Regions from separate parts of the Homo sapiens genome. Here all the other regions are reported to be linked to region 2. Evidence: microRNA targets listed by miRTarBase, many of them from high-throughput screens and not tested one by one. Region 2 holds a microRNA gene; each other region holds the end of a gene's coding sequence.
The links. Region 2 holds the annotated microRNA hsa-miR-4284 (GGGCUCACAUCACCCCAU, at 3,955-3,972, opposite strand). A microRNA usually pairs through its seed, bases 2 to 8, with sites in the 3' UTR of a target mRNA and lowers its output. Matches are read on the target gene's strand: a 7mer-m8 pairs with bases 2 to 8, a 7mer-A1 pairs with bases 2 to 7 and ends in A, and an 8mer does both.

Region 1 (6,134 bases), not on the chromosome of region 2:
TTTACAATTCAGCGAGGCCAATGTCATTGGTGTAATATTTGGCAGGGCCACTGTGCCCTGCTATTTCACGGCCACACATTTCCTCCTGACTCTGGCTGGCTGTTCCACAGCAGCGTGGCTCTGGGGACAAGGTGGAGCCCAGGGACACATTGCAAATGCACAAGAGTCAACAGATCCCCACTCCAAGAAAAACTATTCAAGAAAAGCTATTTAATTCACCCTTTTAACATGATCTTATTAAATAAATATTTGTGGAAGAGAGGAAGGCAAAATAGAGCTGAAGAGAAAGGGGGAGGAAAAAGAGGAAAAGGAAGGCAAAAATGAGAAACATTTTTCCAAAATAATTTGTGGTAATAAAAATTACTTAATCTGGAAATTTGTATTGCCAGAGAGCGAGAACATAAAAAAGAACTGCCAGATTGGAATGAAGACTCCTTTCCCCAGTGGTTATACTTTGAAAAAAATGTGGATTACAGCATTTTGTAAACAGATCAAGTTCAATGAAACAAAAAATATAAATGACTGCTTGGAAAGAAAACTTATTTATCTCATGGGAGATTCAACACTGCATCAGTGGATTTACTACTTACAAAAAGCTGTGAAAAGTATGTATTTAATTTATATTTTGAAATTCTATTTGACTTTTGAGGGTTTTGAAATAATAATTAGAATTATTTGCTTTTCTTTTCTAATATTTATTTTATTTTATTTTATTTTATTTTATTTTAAATTTGCCTAACTTTTGGCTTTGGGCTTTTAATAAAAAGTTAAATTTTATCTTTTCATTCACAAATGTTAATATTTTTCTTCCTCTTCATGTATTCTCATAACAAGTTCAATATTTTGTTAAGATTGTAATGCACCTGGTAAAATTATCCACCTTACATAGGCAATAGTGCTTAGTTAGAAGTGATCTTGGTTAGAATTTTATACATGTTGTGTGCAGTTTAAAGTTATATCATTTTCCTTTTGTTAAAATATTTATTGATTTGTCTTTCATCAGCCCTAAAATATTTTGATCATCATGGAGCTGGGATCTTTAAAACACATGTTCTTCTGGATGTTGAAAGACATATTTTGATTCAGTGGAAAAAACATGGTCATCCATTTGTTACCAAAAAATTATTCTCAGTGAAAGATGAAAACTATATCCCACGGGAAATTGACCAGGTAGCAGGAGACAAAAACACAGCCATTGTCATTACCCTCGGCCAACACTTCAGACCCTTTCCCATCAACATTTTCATCCGTAGGGCCATCAATATTCAAAAGGCCATTGAACGTCTATTCTTGCGAAGCCCGGAGACCAAGGTGATACTTAAAACTGAAAACACCAGAGAGATAGAACAAAATGCAGAGATGTTCAGTGACTTTCATGGCTATATTCAGAATCTTATCATAAGAGATATTTTTGTGGATCTTAATGTGGGTATTATTGATGCCTGGGACATGACGATTGCATATTGCACCAACAATGCCCATCCACCGGATTATGTGATTCAAAATCAGATTGGCATGTTCTTAAACTACATTTGTTAGAGGAAAAATACAAAAATAGCACTAGCCACTTTCTATAGATGATCTCACATATACAGCGAAGATAGTTTAATGCAATCCAAGTTTTGAGGAAACTAAATTTGAAAAAGTTCTATTAAAGTTAAATATATGTAACATAACATTTACCATTTAAGCCATTTTATTATTTTATTTTATTTTTGAGATAGAGTTTTGCTCCTGTTGCCCAGACTGGAGTGCAGTGATGTGATCTTGGGTTACTGCAACCTCCACCTCCAAGGTTCAAGTGATTCTCCTGCCTCAGCCTCCCAAGTAGCTGGGATTACAGGTGCCCACCACCATGCCAAGCTGATTTTTGTATTTTTTAGTAGAGATGGGGTTTCACTATCTGGTTGGCCAGGCTGGTCTCGAACTCCTGACCTTAGGTGATCTGCCCACCTCGGCCTCCCAAAGTGCTGGGATTACAGGCATGAACCACCATGCCCGGCATTATTTTATTTTATTTTTCGAGACAGTCTCACTCTGTCACCAAGACTGGAGTGCAGTGGCATGATCTCAGCTCATTGCAACCTCTGCCTCCCGGGTTCAAGCGATTCTCCTGACTCAGCCTCCCACGTAGCTGGGATCACCAGTGTGCAGCGCCACACCTGGCTATAAACCATTTTTAAGCGTACAATTCAGTGATATTAAGTAATTTACAATGTTGTGAAACCCTCATCATGATCCATCTCTGGCACATTTTTAACATTCCAAAAAGAAACTTGGTACCTATTAAACAATAACTCCCCATTCGCTCCTGTCCTTGGCCCATGGCAACCGCCATTGTATTTTCTGTCCTTCTGAATTTGACTATTTTAGGTAGCTCATATAAGTGGGAACATGCAGCATTTGTCCTTTTCTGTCTGGCGTATTTCACTTAGCATATGTCTTTAAGGTTCATCCATATTGTAGCATTTGTCAGAATTTTCCTTCATTTTTAAGACTGAATAATATTCCGTTGTAAGTATGTACTACATTTTGTTTATCCATTCATTTGTTGATCGACATTTGGGTTGTTTCCCCTTTTGGCTACTGTAAATAGTGCTTCTAGGAAGAGAAAACCAAATTTAAAGGCATGTCTCCAGTGCTGAGCATGATGATTGAATAGCAAATCATCATCACCCATAATTTGAAGACATGTGCAGCCCAGAAATGCATAGATTAAATGATTCAAGTTTAGAGAAAATGTGATGTATACAGGAAAACTTAGTGGGATCATAATAGCAGTCTTCTTGCTTAGGAAAATTATTTGGAACTTAGTAACCAGTTGTTCTCTAGATTCCAGTAAGAATCATGGATCACACTTCAAAACCCACAGGCTCATTGAGAGAAAACAACTTAGTATTATGTTAACGTACAGACCCCAAAACCTTGATTCTTGGATATCCTAAAATATGATTTGGGATCCCCTCCAGAGGGCCTCAAATGACAAATTTTGTCTCTAAATCTTCCTCTCATTAGAAAGATATACACCCTTTCTATTAATATACTCTAGGTCTCAAGAGTAGGAATATTGTTATTAAGGATACTTCCCCTCTTAGGACTGTGTTTCTTAGTTAGAGGAAGTGAAGTTATAATGCTGTAACATCAGTACAAAGTTTGGGTCGTCAGGAGGTGGAGGTTGCAGTGAGCCAAGATTGCACCACCACACTCCAGCCTGGGTGACAGAGCGAGACTCCATCTCAAAAAAAAAAAGAAAAGAAAAGAAAAGAAAAGAAAAGCCTAGGTCATAAGTCTGGGTCATACACTTTAGCACCAGACTTCTCTAAATAGGGAACTCACGTTAGAAATTTCTTCCTTGTATCAAGCTACTTATTGGTTCTAATTCCTCCTTTAGGAAACTTTGAAAGTAAATTTAATTATTCTTCCAACCATTGCAATGTTAATTGCTTAAATGAGTTATCGTTTTCCCATGAAGACCATCTCAAATTCCTTCAACCTGGTTCTGACATGATAGTTTCTAGTTTTCTTACCTTCTCTTCACATGCACTGAAGTTTGTCTATATCACTCTACAACTCACTCTACAATGTGCCTTCTCCCTCATCTCTCACCTCAACAAATTGAATGTTTTAATTTAAATGTGATCCATTAGCCCCTATAAAAGAGGGTCTATTATTTCTCTTGTTCTAGAATTGCACTGTACAACACAGTAGCCATTAGTTGCATAGGGCTATTTAAATTTAAATTAAATTAAGTAAAAAATTAGTTCCTCAGTTGCACTATTCACATTTCAAGTGTTCAATAGCCACATGGAGCTAGTGGTACTATACAGATAGCACAACATGTGCTTGCATTCTTCTCTAGAAAGTATTTTTTAATGTTTTGTCATTGTAATTGGTTGCATTTTTAAAAGCAAATTCCATAATGCGTTATCATTTTTCGTGGTGAGTAAAAAACAAAAAAAATCACCAAATGTTGGTAAGTGTCAAGTCTCTGACTTTTAAGCCATTTACTTCTTGTTTATTTTTTAAAGAAATTCTGGTATCTAAATATTTCATAATGTTTTGGCTTAAGGTGATAGCTTCAGGTTATTGCAGATAATGACTATATTGCTAATATACAAGACTTGAGCAAGCCATTTGAAATCATAGAAATGTTCTCTATTGCTATTATCAAACCTCTTTCAAAAACCCATTTATGCACAATGGAATAAAACAAAACTAGAAATCAATATCAGATGCTGGGTGTGGTGGCTAGTGCCTATAATTCCAGCACTTTGGGAGCCAAGGCGGGCGGATCATGAGGTCAGGAGTTTGAGACCAGCTTGGCCAACATGGTGAAACCCTGTCTCTACTAATCATACAAAATAGCTGGGCATGGGGGCACATGTCTGTAGTCCCAGCTACTCGGGAGGCTGAGGCAGGAGAATCGCTTGAACCCGGGAGGCGGAGGTTGCAGTGAGCCAAGATCATGCCATTTCATTCCAGCCTGGGTGACAGAGCGAGACTCTGTCTCAAAAAACAAAAAAGAAAAAAAAAAAGAAATCGATAGCCGAAAGAAAATAGGAAAATCCATAAATATTTAGAAATTAAACATTGCACTATTAAACAGCCTATGGGTCAAAGAAGAACACACGAGGGATTTAGGAAATACCTGGAGACAAGTGAAAACAAAAATACAACACACTAAAACTTATGGGATGCAGTAAAAGTGGCAATAACAGGGAAGTTCATAGCAATAAATGCTTACATGAAAAAAGAAAAATGTTTGCAAATCAACAGCCTAACTCTGCCCTTCAAGGAACTAGAAAAAGAAGAACAAACCAAGTCCAAAGTCAGCAGAAGGAAGGGAATAATAAAGATTAGAACAGAGATAAAGGAAATAAAGTAAACATAAACCATAGAAAAGATCAAAAAAACTAAGAGTTGGTTTTTCAAAAAGATCAAAAATTTAACAAATTCATAGCTAGACTAAGAAAAATAGAGAAGACTCAAATAGCTAAAATTATAAATGGGCAATGAGACATTAAAATGGATGTCACAGAAATAAAAATGATTTTGAGAGACTACTATGAACAATTGTACGCTAACAAATTGTATAACCTAGAAGAAACTGATAAATTCATAGAAACATACAACCTACGAAGACTGAATCATAAAGAAATAAGAAATTTGAACAGACCTATAACTGAGAGGACATTGAAACAGTAATCAAAAACCTTTCAGTAATAACGACAACAATAAAAAGCCTAGGCCCAGATGGCTTCAGTGGAGAATTCTACTAAACATTTAAAGAAGAATTAACACCAATCCTCAAACTCTCCCAAAGAATAAGAGGAAGGAATGCCCCAAACTCATTCTATGAGGCAAGTATTACCCTGACACCAAGACAAAGACAAGAAAAGAAAACTACAGGCTGATATCCCTGATAAGCATAGATGCAAAAACCCTAAAAAGAAGGAATACTAGTAAACCAAATTCAATAGCTCATTAAAAGCATCATATACCATGACCAAATGGCAATTATACCTGGAATACAAGGATGGCTCAACATATGAAAATCAGTCAATGTAATGTGCCACATTAACAAAATAAGGAACAAAAACTACATGATCATCTCAATTGATGCAGAAAAAGCATTTGACAAAATTTAACATCCTTTCATGATAAAAACAATCAATAAACTATGAATAGAGGGAAACTATCTCAACACGATAAAAGCCATACACGAAAAGCCCACAGTTAATACCATATGCAACTAGGAACTACTGTTTTTCCTCTATGATCAGGAACAAAGCAAAGATGCCCATCCTTACCACTACTATTCAACATAGTACTGAAATTTCCAGCCAGAGCAATTAAGACAAAACAAAACAAAAAAATTTTGTTATATATAGCATATGACAAAAAAAAGAAAAGACACACAATTGGAAAAGCAGAAGTAAATTCTCTCTGTTCACAGATGACATGATCTTATATTTAGAAAATCTTAAAGATTCTGCACAGAAACTATTAGAACTAGGAAATGGATTCAGCAAAGTTTCAGCACACAAAACCAACACTCAAAAATCAGTTGCATTTCTATACCAATGACCAATTCAAAAAGAAAATTAAGAAAACAATCCCATTTCTTACAGCAC
Region 2 (5,990 bases):
AGGTGTGCATCACCATGCCCGGCTAATTTTTGTATTTTTAGTAGCAACGGGGTTTCACCATGTTGGGCAGGATGGCCTCGATCTCTTGACCTCGTGATCTGCCCGCCTCGGCCTCCCAAAGTGCTGGGATTACAGGTGTAAGCCACCACACCCAGCCAATTTTTTTTTTTTTTTTAGACGGAGTCTCATTCTGTCATCCAGGCTGGAGTGCAGTGGCATAATCTTGGCTCACTGCAACCTCCACCTCCCAGGTTCAAGTGATTCTCCTGCCTCATCCTACCGAGTAGCTGGGATTACAGGCATGCACCATCACACCCGGCTAATTTTTGTATTTTTAGTAGAGATGGGGTTTTGCCATGTTGACCAGGCTGTTCTTGAACTGCTAACCTCAGGTGATCCACCCACCTTGGCCTCCCGAAGTGCTGGGATTAAGGCATGAGCCACTGCACCCGGCTACCCCTATAAATTCTGATTCAGTCTCTTTGGGGTGGATCCCTGGAAGCCGTTTTTGTTTTTTTTTTTTAACCCCCCCAAAGGATTCTGGTGCTCGCCCAGCTTTGAGAACTGCTGAATGCAGAACAAAAAAACACCAGGATGTTAGCTGGGCTTGGGGGCTCACACCTGCAGTACCAACTACTTGGGAGGCTGAGGCGGGAAGACTGCTTGAGCTCAGGAGTTTGAGACCAGCCTGAGCAACATAGTGAGACCACCATCTCTACACAAATTTAAAATTAGCCAGGTGTGGTGGCAGGCACCTGTAGTCCCAGCTACTCTGGAGGCTGAGGCTGGAGGATTGCTTGAGCCTGGGAGATCAAGGCTGCAGTGAGCTATGATCTTGCCACTGCACTCCAGTCTGGACAACAAAGCGAGATTCTGTTTCAAAAAAAAAAGAGCTGGGCGCGGTGGCTTACGCCTGTAATCCTAGCACTTTGGGAGACCGAGGCGGGTGGATCACCTGAGGTCAGGAATTCAAGACCAGCCTGGCCAACATGGTGAAACCCCGTCTCTACTAAAAATACAAAAACTAGCCGGGTGTGGTGCGGGTGCCTGTAATCCCAGCTACTCGGGAGGCTGAGGCAGGAGAATCGCTTGAACCTGGGAGGCGGAGGTTGTGGTGAGCCGAGATTGCGCCACTGCGCTCCAGCCTGGGCAACAGAGCGAGACTCTGCCTCAAAAAAAAAAAAAAAAGTGCCAGGACAAATTGGATGTTGGTTGGATGGGAGAAGAGGAGGAAGATGGCAGATGTCCTAGGTTTCTGGCTTGGGGTTCTGCGCTAGGCAGTTCAGAGGATGGGGCTCTGGCAAAACAGGTGGAGCCTGGTTTTGGCCAGGAGGCAGGCAAGGTGCCCGTATGATATCTGGGCACATCCGTCCGTAAGACACTTGGGCCTTTGAGTTTGTGCCCCACAGTTCCAGCTGCCACCTGCACAGCGAAGGGTTCCAAGTCCCCAACTCCAATCCAGCCCCCTCTCCAGAGCTGTGAATGCCACTCAGAAAGCATTGGTAGATCCCCAAGGGAGCTGGGCCCTAATTATTCCACAGAAATCTGTGTGTCCACTTTTGTTTTTTTGAGACAGGATCTTGCTCTGTCACCTAAGCTGGAGTGCAATGGCACGATCATAGCTCACTGCAGCCTCGACCTCCAGGGCTCAAGCAATCCTCCCACCTCAGCCTCCTGAGTAGCTGCAATTACAGATGCATGGCACCACGCCCAGCTAATTTTTGTAGCTTTTGATAGAGATGGGGTCTTGCTATGTTGCCCTGGCTGGTCTCAAACTCCTGGACTCAAGTAATCCTCCCACCTTGGCCTCCCAAAGTGCTGAGATTACCGGCGTGAGCCATCATGCTTGGCCACTTTATGTATACAGTGCCCGCCCTGGCCAGCCCAAGACACCAGGAAGACAGCATGCCAGGGTAGCCACATCACCTAGTTACATTTTGGTCAAGAGTGTGTCTGGGCTGGGAAACAGAGGAGGTGAGGGTGGCAGTGGGGCTCTGCCATCCCGCGTCCTTATCAGTTTATTCCGTGTCCAATGAGAACTGATTCCTTATCTGAGTGAATCTGGAGGACATCTCTAGAATGCTGCCACCAGGCTCTAGCTTGGATGTGGATGAGGGTGCAGGGGCGACAGAGCCAGGAGCCATCAGAATCCCACAAACTGAAATAAGCATCAGAACAAATGAAGAAATGAAACAGGAAGAAGGTCCTTCACTCGAACCCCAAATCCACTCCACAGACAGTGGTTGGGAAGGGCTTGGGGCTTTTCTTGACAGGAAATGCTACATGATCACTTATCTGATTCCTGGCTGTATTACTAGAGGTAGATCATATAGAAAGAGGGAGGGGATGGGCCAGATCTTTGGCATTGCCCAGACCACAGTCAGCAGCAGATTCAGTTTGTGTGCTGTATGACAGGAGACAGAGGCACAGTGGAACAACTCTTGGGCAGGGGCTGTAATTTGGGGTCCCTGGGAAGGATCTGAAAGGGAAGGAATACTTAAAAAGAAAAATCTAGGGAGGATGTGGATGCCGCCTTCAAATCTATAGCAGGGGTACCCCAGGGAGAGGGCACCCACAGGTTCTTTATGGCCTGGAACCAAACCACAGGGAAGAGAAGGACTCTAACAGTTGGGGCTGCCCGAGATGGGCAGAGCTGTCTGGGGAAGCTAGTGAGCTCACTGTCACAGGAGGTTTGCAAGCTGAGGCTGGCAGCTGAAGCCAGGGGGACTTTTCAGGTCCCTTAGGGCCTGAGAGTTTTCAGCCATGGCTCCAATAGGAATGTGAATGGCGTGTGGAAGAACAAGGTGCGAGATACTGATTTGGGGGGGCAGGGAGGCTTCTGGAAGGAGGTGGCATCGAGGAAGAAGGGAATGTCACCTTCATGGAATCAGCATCCCGGGCAAAGGGATGTGCCTGGGGGAAGTTGGGGGCAGAGGGTGGATTGTAGGGCCAGGAACCAGTTGTAGGTGTGGGGGAGTGGGGTCTGATCCCAGGGGAGGGCAGCAGGATAAAGAGCAGAGCTGGGGGTGAAAATTCCCAAGAACGAAGAAGTAGAAGGACGTGGGGAGGAAAGGCCCACTTCGCCCATCCCCTCTAGGTTTTGCTTGGAGCTGTGGCTGGTTTGACCATGCCTCAGAGGTCAGGCCCTCAGCCCCCCGACTGGCTTTGGGGCCAATCTCAATGCCACCTCCAGGGTAGACTTGACCTGCGTGCCCCCATCTACCCTGGCCCTGATCTCCCTTTCCCCAGCCCTACCCTCATAGACGGAGGGTCCAGAGGAGGATGCGGGCATCTCTCCTCCCAGCCCTTCTGTTAGAGAAGCTTCCTGGTCCAGCCTTCAGCCTTCTGGGAAGGTAGCAGGTCAGAGCTGGCCGGATGCCTGGAGAAGATCTGCCCTCATTACACAGATGGGCAAGCTGAGGTCAAGAGAGGCACCAGACAGGTGCCAGGGGTCTCTGAGGGCAGGACAGGGGTTCGGTGGGGCTGGCAGTGACGCTCGTCTCTGGCCACGGAAAAGGAGCTGGATAATTCTCCATCCACCCTTTGTCATCTACCCTGATCCTCTGAGCACCAGGGCAGAGAGGGCAGGACACTGAATGGCAGGAGCTCCTGGGGCCACTTCCCAACCTGGCAGCCTGCCCAGGAGGAGGAACTGGGCTCCTCCTGGCAGTGCTCTGCCTCAGTTTCCCTAGGGAGGGCTCCTCTGACTCAACTCCTAGGCCTGTCACGGTCTAAAAGCGTGAAAACGGCTCCTGGATTTTCTGTGTCTGTAGGGAGCTTGGTGGGGGAGGGGGTACCACCTGGTGACAGCCCCAGGCACTCGGTGGGGAGTGGGAACGAGGATTTATTTTAGCTGCTGGGGAGGTGGTACGATATCTTAAAGAGAGGAGGCCCCTCTGAGCCGCCTCTATCAAAGCTCCTAACTACCCCCTCTCCCCATGAGTCCCCACTTTGATGGGGTGATGTGAGCCCCTCACAGAACATGCTCAGGCCGGGCATGGTGGCGGCTCACACCTATACTCCCAGCACTTTGGGAAGCCAAGGTGGGAAGATCACTTGAGCCCAAGAGTTTGAGACCAGACTGGGCAACATAGTTTGACCCTGTCGCTACAAAAAAAAAAAAAAAATCAAAAAGTAGCTGGGTGTGGTGGCATGCATCTGATGCATCTGTAGTCCCAGCTGCTTGGGAGGCTGAAGTGAAAGGATGGCTTGAGCCCGGGAGGTTGAGGCTACAGGGAGTTATGATTGTGCCACTGCACTCCAGCCTGGGTGACAGAGCGAGACCCTGTCTCAATCAATCAATCAGTCCATCCATCAATCAAACAAACATACCTGCCCTGCTTCCCCACTTTTTCTCAGCCCTCCCTCCATGCAGCCAGGTGTCACTGTCCCCATTTCACAGAAGAGTAAATAGAGCCAGAGGGGTTAAGGCCCAGCCTGATGAGTCCCATCAGTTCTCTCAGCCCCTCAACCTCCACCTGCCTCCGTCCTGACGCGAGAGCACCGAGGTGGGGTCAGTGCTGAGCTAGTCAGTGGCCACTCCCGTGAGGCACTCAGAAATGAGGTGGGAACAAGATCAGATGTGGTGGTTCACGCCTGTAATCCCAGTACTTTGGGAGGCCGAGGCGGGTGGATCACCTGAGGTCAGGAGTTCGAGACCGGCCTGGCCAACATAGTGAAACCTGTCTCTACTAAAAATACAAAAATTAGCTGGGCATGGTGGCATGCACCTGTAATCCCAGCTACTCGGGAGGCTGAGGCAGGAGAATTGCTTGAACCCAGGAGGTGGAGGTTGCAGTGAGCCAAGATCACACCACTGCACTCCAGCCTAGGTGACAGTGCGAGACTCTCTCAAAAAATAAAAAAATAAAAATAAAAGAGGTGGGAACAAGCCCTGAGCCCCAGGCTGAGAGACCTCAGTCCCTGCCCCAGGGTGGCCACCCCGGATATCCTTGCCTTGGCTGCAGAGAGAGACCTGGCCTTGCCAGCAGCGTGGGCTGACCCTGGCCAACTGGCGGTATGAGGCAGACAGTAATAATTGTGCGCAGCATGCTGGGAAGTCAGAAGTATGATTACCCCTGCCCCACGATGGGGGTGGCTTTTGTACAGCTGGTCCTGGGACAGTGGAGTGGGGCTTGTAACTGTGGCTGAGGCCTAAGGCAGGACCCAAGCCAAGTGGCAACATGACTGTCCCCTTGTGCCTGCTGGGCCCAGGTCTGGGGACTGGAAGGAGGCAGACCGAGGTCCAATGGCAAGACCGACAGGGAGGCCAAGTGCAGTGGCTCACACCTACAATCCCAGTGCTTTGGAAGGCTGAGGCAGGAGGATCGCTTGAGGCCAGGAGTTCAAGACCAGCCTGGGTAACACAGTGAGACCCCCGTCTCTACAAAAATAAAAATTAAATTTAAAAACTGTTTTAAAAAAAGACTCACAGGAGATTCCTAAGAGATCTGATCCGTGCCACCTCGGGACTGGGGTTTAGTGGTGCCCAGGGCTGGGACACAGTAGGCAGGTCTCCCCTTATAGGGCCCACTCTGGAAAGGGAGCTTGGGACCTCTGGGCTCCACCTGAATTAAAACCACTGGAGCCAGGCATGGTTGTGGAAACCTATAATTCCAGCTACTCGGGATGCTGAGTTGGGAGGATCGCTTGAGCCCAGGTGTTTAAGGCTGCAGTGAGCTGTGATTGCACCCCTGCACTCCAGCCTGGGTGACACAGCAAGACCTCAACTCTACAGATGTGTGTATGTGTTTGTGTGTGTGTGTGTAAACCACAGGGCCAGGAGAGTAGAGAATGCACTTTCCAGGCAGCTGTCCTAGGGGCCTAGGGGACCCAGAGGGCCCAGACAGAGCGGCCGGCCCCAGGCTCGCTTGCCTCCCCAGCCACAGGGAGGGGGCAGGCAGATAGGTGAGGGAGGAAGTCCCTGGCCCAGAGGCTGAGACTTGGCCTTGACACCAGTGTATCAGGCAAGGTTCCTCTCTCTGTGCCGG
Region 3 (6,134 bases), not on the chromosome of region 2:
TAAAGTGCTTAATATCACAATACTCTTTCAAATTTTATATTATGTTCAGATGAGAAAAAAAATCCAGTTCTGATGCATTTTGCTAACAATACAAAGAAAAACAATATAATTTAAATTCAGAAAAGCTAATTAAAAAAAAGATACACAGGTTACATTTATACATGGTTCAAGTGTAACACAGAGCATTCTAAATGTTTCACACCCTCATTTGATTGACAACAGGAACTCCTTACTATACTTCTCTACTGTTGACAAGATTTGGTGTTTAGAATCAAGATTGGATTCACACACAAGTACATTCAGGTAAATTAGAACAAATATGATTCCCTCCTACATAACCCAAGGATACCCTGGATCCCTTCGAATGAGGAAAAATTTTATTTGAGGTTTTTTTTTTTTCCTCTAGCTTGATGTGATATATCTCTGAAGTCAATCTTTATCTTGTCCTTGAGAGGGTGAACAGCTCCAATCAGATTTTGGAGAGGAGGTTCTCCTTAGATTCTTTTGATCACACTACATCAGCAACCTCTTCAAAAAGCTTAGAATTCAGTTGATTCAAGGGATTTATAAATTTATTTTAATAGGAATAAAGGACCTAGTAGTTTATTATCCTTTTCTGTCTCCTATTTATGCTAAACAGTAAAGTAATAAATACTTATATAAGAAACAGACTTCAAAAGACATGGATGACTTGGAAATAGGATTCACTTTATAAAAGTAGAGAAGGGCTCAAGACTCTCAATCAGTGAAGGTGTGTTAATACTGAAATATAAATAGCTAAAGTTCAGATTGTCTTTTCAACATAGTGAAAAGGATACACTAGTTTCTGTAAACCTCACAGAAAATATTCACAGTTCCCTAAATGAAAAATTGTAATCTTTAGCAGAAAGAAGATATTTCATTATGAAGAGCTACACTCCTAATGTTGTGAAATAAATATTTCCCTGGAAATTTGAGGTCCTTGTCTGTCACCTCATGTTTCAAAATACCTTAGGGATGTCAACATATACTACACATAAGCTGTTGTATAGTCTTGAACCTCTTTTTCACTTACATTTACATATAACAGTGCTTTATTGCCAAAAAAGGAAATATGAGCAGTTCAGTATTTCCCCCATATCATTCATATAGTGTGATAGAAGTTCATTAAAATAATTTTTTAAAAAGCCATGTGAAAGTAAATACCACAAGGTTACAAAAGGTACAAAAATGTGTGAAACATTTAAATTTCAGAGGGAAATCCACACTTCTGCAAGGTTGAAGTTTCTCATATCAAATTCTCATTCCCAGTGGAAAACAAGGTGGGGAGGGTTGGGAGGTTTTTGTCCTCAGTAGCCTGCTTTTTCCCACGTAGGACTCCACTTTATACTACTTCACACTGACTCGCAGTCATTTTTAAGGCATATGACTCCCGACCAGGGCACAGATCTCACACATGCTTCCAACATCAGTGTAATGCCACTGTGTCATAAAGGTCAAGATTAGGGGTTTCATGACATATGAAAAACTTTGGGAAAATAAATTTTTCAAGAGGTAATACTTTTGGCAATTTAATTTTAAAACAACTTCTTCACCAGCTATTACTATGCAAAAATAATCATTATGGTCCCAGCATTTAATTTATTTGCAGGAAAAAAACAAATTAAATATTGATTTTTTTATTTACTTTGAGATGTAATCCTAAAGCAATGTATTAATTTAAAAAATTACCACAGCAGAAAAGATGCCTCTATGTGGGTATGGTCCTTCCAAAAGTCAGCTTAAAAGTCAAGCATTTATTCTAAGCATTCTGCTACTACTGTTGTGCTCAAACTTTTGGTATAACTTAGAGACACTTATGAGCCACATAAAAACTAAGTCCTTTGTTTTGTTTTTTTGAGATGGGGTTTCCCTATGTTACCCAGGCTGGACTCAAACTCCTGGGTTGAAGTGATCCTCCTGCCTTGGCTTCCCAAGCAGCTGGGACTACAGGTGTGTACTGCCATGCCCAACATGTCTTATTTCTTTATAACTGCACTTCTTATGTGACCCCAAACTCAGCTTAAGCATCCTTTTCATTGATCAAACTTGGATCCTAAGGACTATTTCCAAATATTTAAATTTATTCTTAAAGGCCAAGATTGACTGCCATTGGGAATATTCAAAAGAATGGGGGTACTGGCCATTCAAGCAGCTCACACAAGGAGGGCCCCACATGTTTATAGCACAGGCTGTATCAACGGAATAAGTACATGGGCTCACAAGGTGACTGAAGGACCCATCATCCAAGAGGATGTGTCAGTTCTGATGTGTTTTTTTTAAATCATCATTTCACCATTATAGTAATATTACACAAAGGCATGAAGATGAAACTTCAGGTGTAACTTTTTTGGGGGTATTACTTTTTAAAGTAATGGTTTTATTCATAGGCCGCAAATCCAACTTTGGCTGCAGTTTTTTTCTTTTTTTTTTTTTGAGACGGAGTCTCGCTCTTGTCACCCAGGTTGGAGTGCAGTGGCACAATCTCGGCTCACTGCAACCTCCACCTCCTGTGTTTAAACGATTCTCCTGCTTCAGCCTCCTGAGTAGCTGGAATTACAGGCCCTGCCACCACCCCCCCGCTAATTTTTGTCTATTTTTTTTTTTTAGTAGAGACGGGGTTTCACCATGTTGGCCAGTCTGGTCTTGAACTCCCGACTGACCTCAGATGAACCACCCGCCTCAGACTCCCAAAGTGTCAGGATTACAGGCGTTAGCCACCGTACCTGGCCTGCTCCCAGTTTTTACAAGATGTTAATTCCCAATAATCTGAGAGCAATGTGTTAATATGAATATTAATTCTTCTAAATGAATATTCATCCTTATTTCCTACTTGTATAGGTGGATGAATAAAGATCCAATAGTATAATAGAAAGACTATTAGTAAGAATGCCGGAAGGTCAGTCTCATGCAGCCTGGTGAAATAAAACAAACAAACAAACATGAATTCTAGAGCTTGTGTTGTCAGTAACCAGCTGTGGGGTAAGTGTAAGATTTAATCTCTCTATTCCTTAAGTGTTCCCATCCACAAAGTAAGAAGGCTGGATGAGGTGTGTCAATCCTAGCACATTAACCTAAGTCATCCCCCAGGTTGCCTAGACCTGTCAGGAGCATGGCCTTATGAAGATACAAACATGAAATCCTGGGTTGGACCCCTCTATAGTTTCTGATCACCAAACACAGTAGGAGCCCAGTGTAAAACAGGTTCTGGATATCTCCCACGATAAACTTCCCATGTCCCTGGAAGAGCTGTACCATTGTAGACACACTTTAGCTTCAGGCAAACAAATTTCTGGTGTACCCAGAACCATTTTCTTAAACCATTTCCATGGGTTTTTATTTTTATCTATTTATTTTTTGAGATGGAGTCTTGCTCTGTTGCCCAGGCTGGAGGGCAGTGGCGCGATCTCAGCTTACTGCAAGCTCCGCCTCGCGGGTTCACGCCATTCTCCTGCCTCAGCCTCCTGTACAGGCACCCGCCACCACGCCCGGCTAATTTTTTGTATTTTTAGTAGAGACGGGGTTTCACGGTGTTAGCCAGGAGGGTCTCAATCTCCTGACCTTGTGATCCGCCTGCCTCGGCCTCCCAAAGTGCTGGGATCATAGGCGTGAGCCACCGCACCCGGCTCCATGGGTTTTTAAATACAGCTGTCAACTCTCCTTTTCCTCAAGTATGAAGTCACATGTTAAAAGAGGCTGTCCTTGGCTGTGTTTGATAAAGGGAGTTAGGCACTTGTTTCATCTGTTTCTTCCTCCAGGAAATAAGGTTAACAACACAGGTGGTGAAAGCCCAGCAACCTCCGATTGCACAAGGATACTGATGCCATGGCTTTGCTTTTCAGCCACAACTGGGAATAAAACTGGGAGCTCTGCTGAGGCAATTTTGCTGCTAAAAATGTACAAATGCCTAATTAGAGTTACAGGACCTACCAGAAGATGAGGACTTACAGTAACTAGCCAATACTACATTTACTTAACTTCTTTATAAACTATCAAACTGGAAAGTTACTCACAACTTTTGGTCTTTCAAAATTGTTGCCACCTCTTGCTTTGCTTCCATTTTGTCAGCCTGTGCTGCCAGTGGCTTTTAGCTTCTCTGGGTCAGTTGTTTTACATTATTACTCCCCTTCCTACAAAGGAACGTAAAGCTTGCCCTGAAACACCCAGAAAGGGTTCATTCTCTCTCTCCTTCTGTTATTTGCATTATCATGGTCAACAAATGCTTTCACAAAAACATTCCAAGCCACACACAGCCCTCCTCCTCCTTAGACATTCCTTCCATTTCCCGAGGGGGGATGGGCCCTGGAGAGGTGGGTGATTAGACCCTAACAAAGACAGGGCTCATGGTTATCCTTAAGAGGTAGACCACTGCACAGTTTAGATGGCCAAATTAAAAGTACAGAATCAAATTGCTGTTTGCAGTTCTTATCACTATGAATCTAACACTGAAATTCACATCTTCCCAAAGTACCTCAAATAACAAGAATAAAAATGCCAAGAATGAAGTTAGTCTAGGCTAATCTTTCCGAAGTGTAAAGAAGTTATAATCCCACAATTGAACACATTTCTCAGAGCTTTGTATGTTCTCTTTCCAGTTCAGCCAAGCTCCTGGGGTCTAGTGTTTAAAATACTCCAATTATATCATCTTGTGCGGACTGAAATTTTTTTCCAAAAGACTGGAAAAGTGACTAGCGATTCAAATATATAAAACAGTTTGTAACTTAAAAGATAGAAGTGAAGACTACCAGTACAGTAGGTAAAGCTGTGTGCATCCACAATACAAAGGATCAGACTCCAAGATGGATGGCTACTACATAACAATGCATTCTGGGTTTCTTTGTGATACCTGGAGAAAAAAAAAAGCCCGACTGGGTTGCACTATATTTACATGTTTACTGGCTTCTTCCTGGCTAGCACCACTCTTCCCCCCAACCCCCAACATTTTTAAGCTACTTATTTTAAGTCACAGGAATATTCAATCTAAGAAAAGCATCTTATTAGAGTAATATAATTTCTTAAAGAAGATAGCATATTTACACACATCTAACACATGAAAATACTCTATTTTATACTAAATTCCAGGTTCAAATGAACTACAATACAACATTTTGCCTTGTCTGTAGAGTGAGGATTGTTCCAAATGGGGCATATGTTTGGCTGCCCCTGCAGTGACTCACTACTGTCAGACAAGTCCAAATCGGTCCCCTAGTTGGGGAAGGAGCAAGGTTTGGACTGAGAGTTTCTAGCCAGTTGGGTTACACATCCACTCCTTTGATGAGTGATCCTTCTAGGACTATGGTGAAGTCCTGAATGGTCTGCAGAATTCGGATAAGGGAGTTGACAGTCATGCGGTCTCGCAGGAGAGCGCTCTCTTCATACATTCGAGTGATGGCAGGACACTCAGCTAACAATGGAATCCACTGTGGGAGCAGGCGATCCCTACAGACCCAAACAGAAACAATTCCTGAGCATTGCTGGCCTCGCTGCAGAACAAGGCACACAGTGGAGTCTGTATGAATGGGAAGGTGTGGGACTTGATGGTACAAAATGTATCCAAGCTAAGAGGTCAGGAGAGAGGAAATCAAAGCCAAGAAGTTGAATATTTTCTGGTAAAAAGACAGTGATGAGACAGTGTAAAGAAAGCTAAAGGGAAAACCCATTATTTTAAACCCAATTTAATGTACTTTAAGAGTTTAAAGTACATTAGAAAGTCTATGCACATTAAAGACATTCTCTATTCTGATTTTACCACCTTTAGAAAGAGGCAGAATGTCATTTTCTATGTCTTTTTTTTTAATAGGAGTGTTACTCTGTGGCAAGGCATGCCACAGTATACTGACCTTTTGGAAGAAAGACTACACTAAACTGTAGGGACTTGCTTTTTTTTTTTTTTTTTTTTTTAACTTATATAACATAACAGGGTGAGGAACAAAATCAAAGCAGAAAAACATTAAGTAGATTTTATAAACCAGATGAGAGTTTGCAATGGTCTAATAAATCAGAAGAGTATAGAGATAAAAGGAGATAAAGATCATGCTCAAAAGAAACTTTAAAAGCACAGCTAAAACTGGGCTCCTTTTATGAAGAAGAAATACAGAACTTAGTTCTGTAAACCA
Region 4 (6,074 bases), not on the chromosome of region 2:
TAAATTTAAAATGCTTTAGAATAGGTTATTGTAGTATTCTTACATAACTAATCTCATCTGCTTTTTTTTCTTCTCCCCCCTTTTTCCTTGTTGTTTACAGAGGAATGGTAGGAATCATTCTCACTGCTGGGATTATTGGATGGTGTAGTTTTTCTGCTTCCAAAATATTTATTTCTGCATTAGCCATGGAAGGACAGCAACTTTTAGTAGCATATCCTTGCGCTTTGTTATATGGAGTCTTTGCCCTGATTTCCGTCTTTTGAAAATTTATCTGGGATGTGGACATCAGTGGGCCAGATGTACAAAAAGGACCTTGAACTCTTAAATTGGACCAGCAAACTGCTGCAGCGCAACTCTCATGCAGATTTACATTTGACTGTTGGAGCAATGAAAGTAAACGTGTATCTCTTGTTCATTTTTATAGAACTTTTGCATACTATATTGGATTTACCTGCGGTGTGACTAGCTTTAAATGTTTGTGTTTATACAGATAAGAAATGCTATTTCTTTCTGGTTCCTGCAGCCATTGAAAAACCTTTTTCCTTGCAAATTATAATGTTTTTGATAGATTTTTATCAACTGTGGGAAACCAAACACAAAGCTGATAACCTTTCTTAAAAACGACCCAGTCACAGTAAAGAAGACACAAGACGGCCGGGCGTGGTAGCTCACGCCTGTAATCCCAGCACTTTGGGAGGCCGAGGCGGGCGGATCACAAGGGCAGGAGATCGAGACCATCCTGGTTAACACGGTGAAACCCCGACTCTACTAAAACTACAAAAAAAATTAGCTGGGCGTGGTGGCGGGCGCCTGTAGTCCCAGCTACTCAGGAGGCTGAGGCAGGAGAAGTGTGAACCCAGGAGGCGGAGCTTGCAGTGAGCCGAGATCACACCACTGCACTCCATCCAGCCTGGGTGACAGGGTGAGACTCTGTCTCAAAAAAAAAAAAAAAAGGAGACACAAGACTTACTGCAAAAATATTTTTCCAAGGATTTAGGAAAGAAAAATTGCCTTGTATTCTCAAGTCAGGTAACTCAAAGCAAAAAAGTGATCCAAATGTAGAGTATGAGTTTGCACTCCAAAAATTTGACATTACTGTAAATTATCTCATGGAATTTTTGCTAAAATTCAGAGATACGGGAAGTTCACAATCTACCTTATTGTAGACATGAAATGCGAACACTTACTTACATATTAATGTTAACTCAACCTTAGGGACCTGGAATGGTTGCATTAATGCTATAATCGTTGGATCGCCACATTTCCCAAAAATAATAAAAAAATCACTAACCTTTTTTAAGGAAAATATTTAAAGTTTTACAAAATTCAATATTGCAATTATCAATGTAAAGTACATTTGAATGCTTATTAAAACTTTCCCAATTAATTTTAACTGTGTTATTGAATTTACTTTTACTAAACTACTGTTCTCTTTGTCTCTTTTTTAACTAGGCTCTGATTTTGACCCCTAATTTAAGCTTTAAGAATAGAAATCAGCTAATATAGAATCAGACAAAAAGGGGATTAAATGAGCAGTTTGAGTTACATTATTTTATTGTATTAAATTTATTTGATTTATATTGTCATGTTCTCTTGCCAGAGAGAATCTGTAGGAAAATACTGTATCTTGTATACTGATCATTGGCTTTTTCTAGAAAAACTGTCTCTGATTCTGGACAAAGCTCAGTTATAGTTACGAGAAAGATATGGTACAGGGAGGAAAATACTGCCTTTTTTTTTTTTTTAAAGAGATTTTCAGACTAAATAGAAATGTCAAAATGATGTATCAATGGTTCTTTTTTAGAACAAGTTTTCAAAGCATAAAAAGAGGTTGAGAGAAATAACATATTTATTGATTCACATAAGTATGTTTTTCTTCATTAATCGTCTGGAGAAACCCACTTGTCATTAATTTGTTTTGGGCTAGGTTTTCAAACTTACCAAATTGCTTTAAAAAAGCAATTTGGAAGGTAATTTGATAGGCTTTCCAACTTAACCAAATTTTTTATTGTAATTCTTGGATAGTATTTTTGTCTTTTTCAATTCATTTGTCTTTTTCAGTATAGTTTTTGTTAAGGCAAATGTCTTCCCTTAATATCCAAATATTGCTAATAAACGGTAGAAGATGCTTTGGAAATTAAAATTATCTCGCTGTTGGTTAGACTTAACACTGTTAATCTTCAGCCAAATATCACATATGGATCAAATTATTTTCTTTTTTGTTGTTTACCCTATCCTCAACAACATTTTTAGTTTAAATTATTGTAGAGATTTTTTTTGTGGTGGTTATTTTTTATTTTGCTCCAAAATAATAAGGTGCAAAGCTATTTTATGCTTAACTGTTGCTCTGTCAAAACAGCTATGCAGTGGAGTTGCATTTGATGTTCTAGAGTTTGATTACATGCAGAGTTGTATATAGCCAAAACTTCTCTTATCAAACTCTGTTATGTAGGCATATTTATATATACATTAAAGACTGTTGTACTGTGTCTCAAAAAGTACTATGTGGCGCTTTTTTTTTGTCTATCATTGGAATAGATTGGTTTCTTCAGTTAAGTACCAGGTAGATTACCTGCCTTGCTTTAGGCCCATTTTATACTAAAAGCATGCAGGTATCTTTAAACACTAGAGACACCATAGCTAAAAGCTCATCCAGTGATTGTCATTGAGTAACTGAAACTCATCGTGGGGGTAACAGACTGAAACACGCCTTATCTCCAAATACTGTACTTGTGAGTGGAGTGGCAAATTGACTTAACACTAGTGTGTTACTCATACATGTATACATGCCAAGATCATGTAGTTGACTTTACATATGGAGTAAATGTATATTTTATAGCATTGCTATAATACTGTGTTTACCAATGGGTATTTTCAAGAGCTGTATAACTAGGCTTATGGAAATAGACATTCTTTTTCCAGTTATAGTTAGGCAGATTATGCAAAGTTCTAGAAATCTTAAGATACTATCCTTGGATAGTGGCCACCTAATCAAAGAGAGTTTTTTAAAATGTATCTAATGACATGATTTGGGATAGAATTTAGCATTGTACATTTGGTATTTTGCAAATTTGTATTTTTAACCTTAATAGGCATTGCTAAACTCAAATATGCTCCAAAGCTAAGTCAGTTGTCTCTAAAGTTAAAATTATGCAATTATGCTTGCAGTACTTACTACCTACAGAAAAAGGGAGCCTTTCTGATGTGAACTATACACTAGTTTTCTTTCACATAAATGGAAGAATTTTAAACTTTGGGTAAAGGGAAATTGTACAAGTTAAAATATTATTCTGTAGAGATGCTCTATATCATGAAGAGTTATGGGAAATCAAGGCTACATTTGCCATGCTGTTATATAAAGCAGATCTGATGTAGTTACTCAGACAAGTTGTTTCTCTTTCTTTGTGGGAAGAAAACAAAAAAAAAGTTGTATATAGCAAGTATTTAGCCTTTCATAAAGTAGTATGGAAAGTTTTCAAAACAATATAGCAGCTCTCATGGTACAGATTGTACAATGAAGCATACTTACCAAAGACTAGCCCTGGGCCTTCCTTCAAAATACTACCTAGAGCAAGCCTCCTACCCAAACAATTCCTCATGTTAAAGCTGCCCTCACATGCTATCCACTGACTCATTTTGTGACATGTCAAATTTCAACTGTTATTTAGTAGCAAAAACATACTGCAGATGAGTTAATGAGAGTGTCTCTTTATCTTTTTAGAGTGTATTTAGGATTTATCGGAAGCAGTGTGCCAGTAACAAGGTTTCAAGGTTGTTGGAAACGCCTTAAGGAAGAATTGCTTTATGTGCTTTAATGAATACATAAGAATGATGTCATTACCCTGCCAAGCATACAGTGTTTGTTTTTATACAGTCTGAATAAAACCTAGCCTCCCCACTCTCTACAATCTAGGCTATCATTACTTTGCACCCCTAATGAAGAAAGAATTAACTTTTTAAAAAATTAACTCTGCTTCTCCACCATCCAAATTATTGAAGTTTGAATTGTAGTACATTACTAATACTTGAATTTCAGTAAGTTAATTTGTTCATTAATAATTAAATATCCATTTTGTAACTGGGCAATAGGTAAAATGAAACATTAAATATTTAAATTGTCAATTTCTATGGATTGGTAGAGTACTTAAACTTATGTTATTATTAACAAATATGTATCTTAGGATGGTGACCATCAAAACCAAAGAATGCAGTTTGATAGTATGCAGTTCTGATTTTGCATCACAGGTGGAAATATTTCTGCTGCCCTTGAGCACAAAGTTCCTACTCTGGTTAATGAAGAACATTATCTGCTGATGGAGCACAATGTCCTGTGTTTGTGTAAATAAATTAAAATGATTACATACTCAAATGAGGACTAATTAAATAGAGAGCTGTTCTAATTTAAAAGCACAAATACTTTCTTGAGCACATTAGGTTCCAAAAATCGGATATTACATTTTTTTGTGAGCTTAACTAATTAGGCTTACCTTGCATGTATGAATTTGGTTTATTTCTGCAACTAGCACTAAATCTGCTGATTGCTTGCAGAGTGATTAATTATGCATTAAGGTGTTTTCAATAGCTTATCAGCACTTGTGGCACACACATGAATAAAGAAAAAAATGAGAAAACAAATAAGTACTCAGCAGAAACATTTAACATGCTTGTAAATTATACTTTTAATCTAGTTGGATGACTTTTATTTTCCTACAAACAGAAAAAATAGTTATTTTCTATTTTCCTAGTTAGAATATAACGCAAAGGAGTGTCTGTAAAATTTAATGACACGTTTGCTTTCAGTTATCAGTTTCATGGTCTGATAATATTGGAGAACTTGGTAGTCTTTAGGCAATGAATGGCACTAAAAGCCTTTTTGTTTTCTGTGTTTTAATTTTTAGTTTTCTAAATGTATAATCTTTATTTCCTTTTCTAGGTACACTGTCATCTTGATAATACCTTCACACAGCAATAAAAAGCAGATTATTGATAATCTATTTCAAAATGGATGACCCTCAGAAATATGCCAAGTAAAAGAAAAAGCCAAATACAAAAGGCCACATATCATATGATTCCATTTATATGAATATCTAGAAAAGGCCAATCTATAAAGACAAAGCAGATAAATAGTTACCAGGAGGTGGTAGTGGAGACTGACGGCAAATGAGGCAGGAGGGAACTTTTTGAGTGGTGATGGCTGCACAACTGTATGTTTACTAACTAAATTTTAAGTGTATACTAAAATAGGTGGATTTTGTGGTATGTAAATTATATGTTAATAAACTTTTTAAAAAACATGGAAAGGGGAATGGGAGGCAGAGCAACCACCAGAACATCTATGTTTCTAGAGTTCAAGAGAAGGGTTTTAGGATAGATTTTAATAAAGACAAAAATATATATAGTACCTTTTCCCAGAAGAATATTAATACTGAACAAGTGAAATTGCCCCTCTATCCCCAAATTTCATTCCCCACATAACTGCCTTTAAATAGATTAGCATACATTTTATCAGACTATACACACAGGTACCCAATTCTTCCTAGTGACTTGTGTACACATTAATACATACATGCACTTACCTTTTAAGTTTGTTTTTATTGAATTGAAATTCAATAAAATATATATAACATATAACAAAATTTACCATTTTAACCATTTTAAAGTGTACAATTCAATGTTTTTTAGCATATTCACAATGTTGTACAATCATCACCCACCACTATTTTCAGAATATTTCTATCACCCCCCACTGCCCGCAAAAATTCCCTTTATCTCTCAATTTTCCCCTTCATACCCTGGCGACTACTAATCTTTTTTCTGTCTCTGGATCTGCTTATTCTGGACATCTCATAGAAATGGAAGCATGCACTATGTGGCCTTTTGTTTCTGGCACCTTTGAGTTTACATAATGTTTTCAAAGTCTCTTGTTTTTAAACTTAGCATTCCATTATGGGGATTATTATATATGCTGAACATCGAGATTTACTTCATTGTTTTTAATGGCTGGATATCATTTTATTAAATGAGCAGAGTTTAATTTACTTAATCCCCTATTGTTGGACAATTGATGTCTTTGT
Region 5 (6,134 bases), not on the chromosome of region 2:
AAGTGAATTTCAAAATTCTCTTTACCTAGTTTTAAACAAATGTATCTCAGCCAGGCACGGTGGCTCACACCTATAATCTCAGCACTTTGGGAGGCTGAGGCTGGCCAATCACTTGAGGTGAGGAGTTTGAAACCATCCTGGCCAACATGGTGAAACCCCGCCTCTACTAAAAATACAAAACTTAGCTGGTGTGGTGGCACACGCCTGTAATCCCAGCTACTCAGGAGGCTGAGGTAGGAGAATCGCTTGAACCCGGGAGGTGGAGGTTGTAGTGAGCCAGGATCATGCCACTGCACTCCAGCCTGGGTGATGGAGTGAGACTCCGTCTCAGAAAAAAAAAAAAAAAAAAGGAAATGTATCTAATTTGGTTTAACATGTTTACCTCTGTTGGCAGCAATGGTTTTGAAGCTTAACGTTGGAGTGCTGCTGTAACTTTCAGACTCTTTAGCACTTGGAAGATGAACTAAAAATAATGGGTACACACTAAGAAATCTGCATACAGAGCAGGGGACCCCCGGCTTCCTCTGTGGATGGAACAAGGGACCTCCTCCCTAGCATGGCACATTGCCCTTATTTATATTCTGCTTTCCTTGTCGTACATAGCCTGGCAACCCATGCCACTGTCGCTGTTAACAGAGGAAGTTGGGGTTTATTTGTTCACTGCGGTTTTCTTTTGTTGTTTGTTTGTTTGTTTGTTTTAGACAGGGTCTCACTCTGCCACCCAGGCTAGAGTGCAGTGGTGTGATCTCGGCTCACTGCAGCTTCAGCCTCCTGGGCTCAGGGGATCCTCCTACTTCAGCCTCCTGAGTAGCTGGGACTATAGGGGAGTGCCACCACACCTGGCTGATTTTTGTATTTTTTGTAGAAATGTGGTTTCACCATGTTTCCCAGGCTGGTCTTGAACTCCTGGGCTCAAGCGATTCCAAAGTGCTGGGATTACAGGCATGAGCCACCATGCTCAGGATGGTCATTGTGTTTTCCGTGGGATAAACGCATTGGCATTAGGGGAAGGCTTAGATCGACAACACACCCGCACAAACACATCAGCTGTCATCTCTTTACCCTCAGCATTTCTCTGGAATGTCTAAGTTAAGCTTTAAGACGTTGGTCAGATCTTAGAGAACTGGCAGAAAGGAATTTCAATGAAACATTGGGTCAGATTGCAAATGAAAAAGCTTGAAATGTGGGGATGGCCACGTTTTAATAGGTTTTTGGTTTTTGTTTTTACATGAAAGGATTCTCATCGCTTTGGAAGGCACCTGAAAGAAGCAATGACTGACATCATCACTTTGTTTGGTCTCAGTTCTAATTCCAAAAAGTAATTCCACTGGAGCTGCTGGGAAGGAAAACGAGCTCTTCTGATGCAAACCAAATGAAAAATAGGCATTAATCCTGACCTTAGCTCGGGATGAAACACTGCTCTTAAAAAAACTCAGTTTTCCTTCCAGAAAATGTGGGTGTTTTTTTTTCCTAGAACAGTATCTCTCCCCTGTGAAGCATAACCCCACTACTTCCAGACTTGCCCTCCCTTGGGGGACATCTGATAAAGTCTCCCCTGATGTCTCCGCATCGGCTTGGATTTATTAAGGGATGCAAATCTTGTTGAGTTAATGAAGGAATTAGTAGGGTTGTGGCTTCACACACAGTGGAATGGAAATGGTGTGCTTTCTCAGTGGCAACCGAAGGCCTAGTGCTTAAGGGCATTTAGCATCATCCAAGCAGGGTAAACTTTTGTTTTGTTAAAAGAAAAATGTGTTATTCAAGTTGGTGTCCCCAGTTGTAGCTAACACATCTGGAATGCACTAACCAAAATGCTGTGCTTTGGAGACCTGCTTTTGTCACCGTGGGTAACCGTTCCCGTCTGGTCCAGTAGCCTGTGTTTGCCTCTCCACATTTGAAGCAAGCAGGATGCAAGGTCTTCAGTTTTACTGACCTTGTATGTCTTCAAGTCTTCACAACCCAGTGCCTTAAAAATGAAAGGCCCTAAATGTAAGGGAGATGGAGAGAAAGATTTATTTTGTAGAGTCTTTGGGTGGAATTGTGGGTATACTGTTCCCTTCACAATTGACTGAGTATGGATAACCGTACATAAGCATTTGCTACACCCCACCAGCCCCCTCCCCCTCAGAAACACCAGTTCCTTCCCAAGGGCAGCTGTGCCAGACTCCCCTCCCGGGACTGCCTTCTTGTCATCATAAGCAACAAAAGAAATAACAGGCACATGTCATAAAAGGGGAGCAAGGGCCGTGATGGTCAGATAATTCACTCAAGAATAAAACATGACACGTGCCTCAGGAGGATCTCTTTCCCAAAGTGACAGCAAGGAGGGCAGGGCATCGGCCACCAAGCGGGGACTAGCAAGTGAGGAAGGGGAGGGCAGCCCACCGTGGTGAGGAGAGAGTGGCTCCACGACCCCAAGGGATGGCCTTCTCCTCCCACCCGGTGAGGGGAAAGACTCACCAGAGGGTGATGGAGACAGTATGCCGGCTCACCTTGGTGACCAGCCAAGATGTCTCAAGTGACAGTGCTAGGTGTTCACCCAGCCTGTCCTTCAGATAGGAGTGCCTTCACGAAAGCGTCTCATGGACCACAAAGCAATTATGCACTGAGTCATCTTCAGTATTTAATGCAAAAATGAAGCATCATGGAATGAAATTCCCACTGTCTGTCATGACAAGCTTAGCTGTCCATTGTTTTAAATTGTGTATTTATTTTTTTGACCACTTGGTTCTAGTTGGGCCTGACTCCTTCAGAGTGCTGCACCCCGATAGTACAACAGCGATGGCTGAACTGTTGGAGTCGATGGAAGGTGCTTGCCGGAGAACACGTGCCTTTTTTTTTTTTTTTTTTTTTGAGATGGAGTTTCACTCTTGTTGCCCAGGCTGGAGTGCAGTGGTGCAATCTCGGCTCACTGCAGCATCTGCCTTGCAGGTTCAAGCGATTCTCCTGTCTCAGCCTCCCAAGTAGCTGGGATTACACGCCCAACACCATGCCCTGCTAATTTTTGTATTTTTAGTAGAGACGGGGTTTCATCATATTGGTCAGGCTGGTCTCGAACTCCTGACCTCAGGTGATCCACCTGCCTCAGCCTCCCAAAGTGCTGGGATTACAGGCATGAGCCACCATGCGCGGCCCACATGCATGTTTTATGTATGTATACTTCATGATGTAAAAATCCCACCTTTATGGGCCAAAGATTTTTTTTCTCCTGAAAGCAAGAAAAAATGAAAACAAAAGACAAAAAAAAAAAAAAAAGCGTCCAGGCGCGGTGGCTCATGCGTGTAATCCCAGCACTTTGGGAGGCCAAGGCGGGCGGATCACGAGGTCAGGAGATGGAGACCATCCTGGCTAACACGGTGAAACCCCGTCTCTACTAAAAATTCAAAAAATGAGCCGGGCGTGGTGGCGGGCGCCTGTAGTCCCAGCTACTCAGGAGGCTGAGGCAGGAGAATGGCGTGAACCCGGGAGGCGGAGCTTGCAGTGAGCCGAGATCGCTCCACTGCACTCCAGCCTGGGCGACAGAGCGAGACTCCGTCTAAAAAAAAAAGCAAAAACAAACCAACAACAAAAGCCCCTGACTGTCCGTCAAGCAGGCAGCGGGGATGTAGCTCTCTCTGCCCTGGGCAAGAATAGCACTTCCCGTTAAAAGCCAGCAGCCGGCGTCAGTCCCTATCAGAGCCAGCTAGATCATGCACTGTTGACCACTGAGCAATCTGTGTTACACTAGAGTTCACAGGGCATTTTGAGTGTAGACGTGAGTGCTTAAACATATTTGGGTTTCTCTCTCAGGTTTTAAATGTTTCAAATGTAATTGTTGCTCATCAGTGCAGTTATCAATGCAATTTTATATTCCTTGAGGGGAGAAAGAGGGGTCTTATTGTACATGTCCAAGGGGGGTGATAAGAGTATTATCTGTTTAATTTAATTGGAACAAACCATTGTCTTAACGCAGCCATGGTTTGAATTTGTTATCTTGGGCTGACCGGTGCATGTAAATACAGTATGCTCTTTGGATGTAAATCTTAGAAATGCAGTGTGAATGTAGGTTATCATTAATAAAACATTAACCCCAGTCTACTACAAGATTTGTTTCTGTCTCTTTTGTTATATTAAGGGGATTATAAGTCAAGGACCAAGTTCAGATACTTGAGACAAAGTGGAAAGTCTCAGCATATGGAAACAAGGCCTTGGAGGAGACCATGGACATCACCAAGTTCATGTGCTGGGCTGGAAAGAAAAGCCTGTTGATTTTCACTTGCTGTGCATTTATTCATCCATTCCATTGCCTCAATGCTGAGAACAGTGCCTGACACATAAAAGATGCTCAATAAATATGTTAAAAGTAATGCATGAATTCCATTTTTCTGTTTTTCTTGAGCACCTGTATTAGGCCATTCTCACATTGCTGTAAAGAAATAGCTGAGACTGGGTAATTTATAAGAGGTTTAATTGGCTCTCAGTTCTGCAGGCTATACAGGAAGCATGGAGGCATCTGCTTCTGGGGAGGCCTCAAACAGCTTTTTACTCATGGTGGAAGGCAAAGGGGGAGCAGGCATTCTACATGGTGAAAGGAGACAGAGAGAGAAAGAGAGGAGGTGCTCTCTTACACATTTGCAAACAACCAGATCTGAGAGAGAGAGAGGAGGTGCTCTCTTACACACTTGCGAACAACCAGATCTCACAGGAACTCACGCACTCTATGGTGAGGACAGTAGCAAGAGGGATGGTGCTGTTCATGAGAAATGCACGCCCATGATCCAGTCACTTCCCATCAGGCCCCACCTCCAACATTAGGGATTACCACTGAACCTGAGATTTGGGTGGGGACACACATCCAAACCATATCAGCGCCTGTTCTAGGCACTGGGGAGACAGCAGTGACCCCACCAGGTTCTGGCTGTCTCATTAGTCCATTTTTACATTGCTGTAAAGAACTTCTTGAGACTGGGTAAGTATAAAGGAAAGACAGTCAATTGACTCACAGTTCAGCATGGCTGGGGAGGCCTCAGGAAACTTATAATCATGGCAGAAGGTGAAGGGGAAGCAAGAAACCTGTTACATGGCAGCAGAGGAGAGAGAGTGAGGGGGAATTGCCGAACACTTTTAAGCCATCAGATCTTGTGAGAACTCACTTCTTATTGCAAGAACAGCGTAGGGGAACCGCCTCCTTGATCCAATCACCTCCCACCAGGCCCCTCCCTTGACACAGAGGGATTACAATTCAAGATGAGATTTGGGTGGGGACACAGAGCCAAACCATATCACAGAGGAAAAAGAGAACAAGCCAACCAGTTGAAGGATTTTAAGTGTTCTGAGGCAACTAAGAGGATCATTGGGAGGGGGTGGTAGCTGGCAGGGAGGTTGACCCACTTAGAGTGGGTTGAGCTGAGACCTGAGAGACTCGACGGAGCCAGCCCGGCCAGTGCAGCAGGGCAGCAAGCATCTAGGAGCAGCAGGTGCAGAGCCTCCAGGCTTGATTGCAACCCGTGGGTGACCCCCACAGGTGGCTGTGTATGCCTGGCATGATGCTACTCAGTAGACGTCTGATTCTGATTAGTAAACGAATGAACGGTGCAACCTTGTGGGTTACTCTCTCGCTTGGGCCACTCAAGCTATGCATAATTCTTGGGCTCTTCGATTTATTATTTTTATTATTTTTTCTGCTTCTGTGAGTGTTTTTTGTTGTTGTTGTTTTTGTTTGTTTGATTTTTGAGATGGAGTTTCAATCTTTTTGCCCAGGCTAAAGTACAATGGTGCAATCTCAGCTCACTGCAACCTCCGCCTCCCAGGTTCAAGCAATTCTCCTGCCTCAGCCTCACAAATAGCTGGGATTGCAGGTGTGCACCACCATGCCTAGCTAATTTTGTATTTTTAGTAGAGACAGGGTTTCACCATGTTAGTCAGGCTGGTCTTGAACTCCTGACTTTAAGTGATCTGACCACCTTGGCCTCCCAGAGTGCTGGGATTACAGGCATGAGCCACCACGCCCAGCCCCAGGCAAAATTTTCTTGATTTTTGAATGTTAAATGTACAACTAAATAGTACACGGTGTTGCTGTGCCTTGGGTACTACCCTTTAAAAATTTAGAAAAGTATTTAATTTTTAAAAGTGAGATTAGAAAGCTGATGTTTTAC

Region 1: the mRNA of NXPE2 is a reported target of hsa-miR-4284. The part of its 3' UTR that is shown has no 7-base or 8-base seed match.
Region 3: miRTarBase lists DENND5B as a target of hsa-miR-4284. Seed matches in the 3' UTR shown: 7mer-m8 at 2,507-2,513 and 7mer-m8 at 2,235-2,241.
Region 4: the mRNA of YIPF5 is a reported target of hsa-miR-4284. Seed matches in the 3' UTR shown: 7mer-m8 at 876-882.
Region 5: the mRNA of CPT1A is a reported target of hsa-miR-4284. Seed matches in the 3' UTR shown: 7mer-A1 at 3,116-3,122 and 7mer-m8 at 3,481-3,487.

What each region holds. Positions count from the first base shown.
Region 1 is chr11:114,705,392-114,711,525 of GRCh38, forward strand. It overlaps NXPE2 (neurexophilin and PC-esterase domain family member 2), which reads left to right. Exons shown (of 6, transcript NM_182495.6): 5 at 390-605; 6 at 1,004-1,678. The coding sequence ends at 1,539. Among named protein-coding and RNA genes, the nearest start is that of NXPE2, 30 kb to the left of the region's middle.
Region 2 is chr7:73,709,309-73,715,298 of GRCh38, reverse strand. MIR4284 (microRNA 4284) reads right to left here and starts at 3,982; the gene lies at 3,902-3,982. The region is part of intron 1 of STX1A (syntaxin 1A); the gene reads left to right.
Region 3 is chr12:31,382,330-31,388,463 of GRCh38, forward strand. DENND5B (DENN domain containing 5B) reads right to left here. Exons shown (of 21, transcript NM_144973.4): 21 at 1-5,457. The coding sequence ends at 5,274. Among named protein-coding and RNA genes, the nearest start is that of LINC02387, 16 kb to the left of the region's middle.
Region 4 is chr5:144,154,586-144,160,659 of GRCh38, reverse strand. YIPF5 (Yip1 domain family member 5) reads left to right here. Exons shown (of 6, transcript NM_030799.9): 6 at 101-2,498. The coding sequence ends at 263. Among named protein-coding and RNA genes, the nearest start is that of YIPF5, 13 kb to the left of the region's middle.
Region 5 is chr11:68,752,832-68,758,965 of GRCh38, reverse strand. CPT1A (carnitine palmitoyltransferase 1A) reads left to right here. Exons shown (of 19, transcript NM_001876.4): 19 at 1,236-4,083. The coding sequence ends at 1,322. Among named protein-coding and RNA genes, the nearest start is that of TESMIN, 4.4 kb to the right of the region's middle.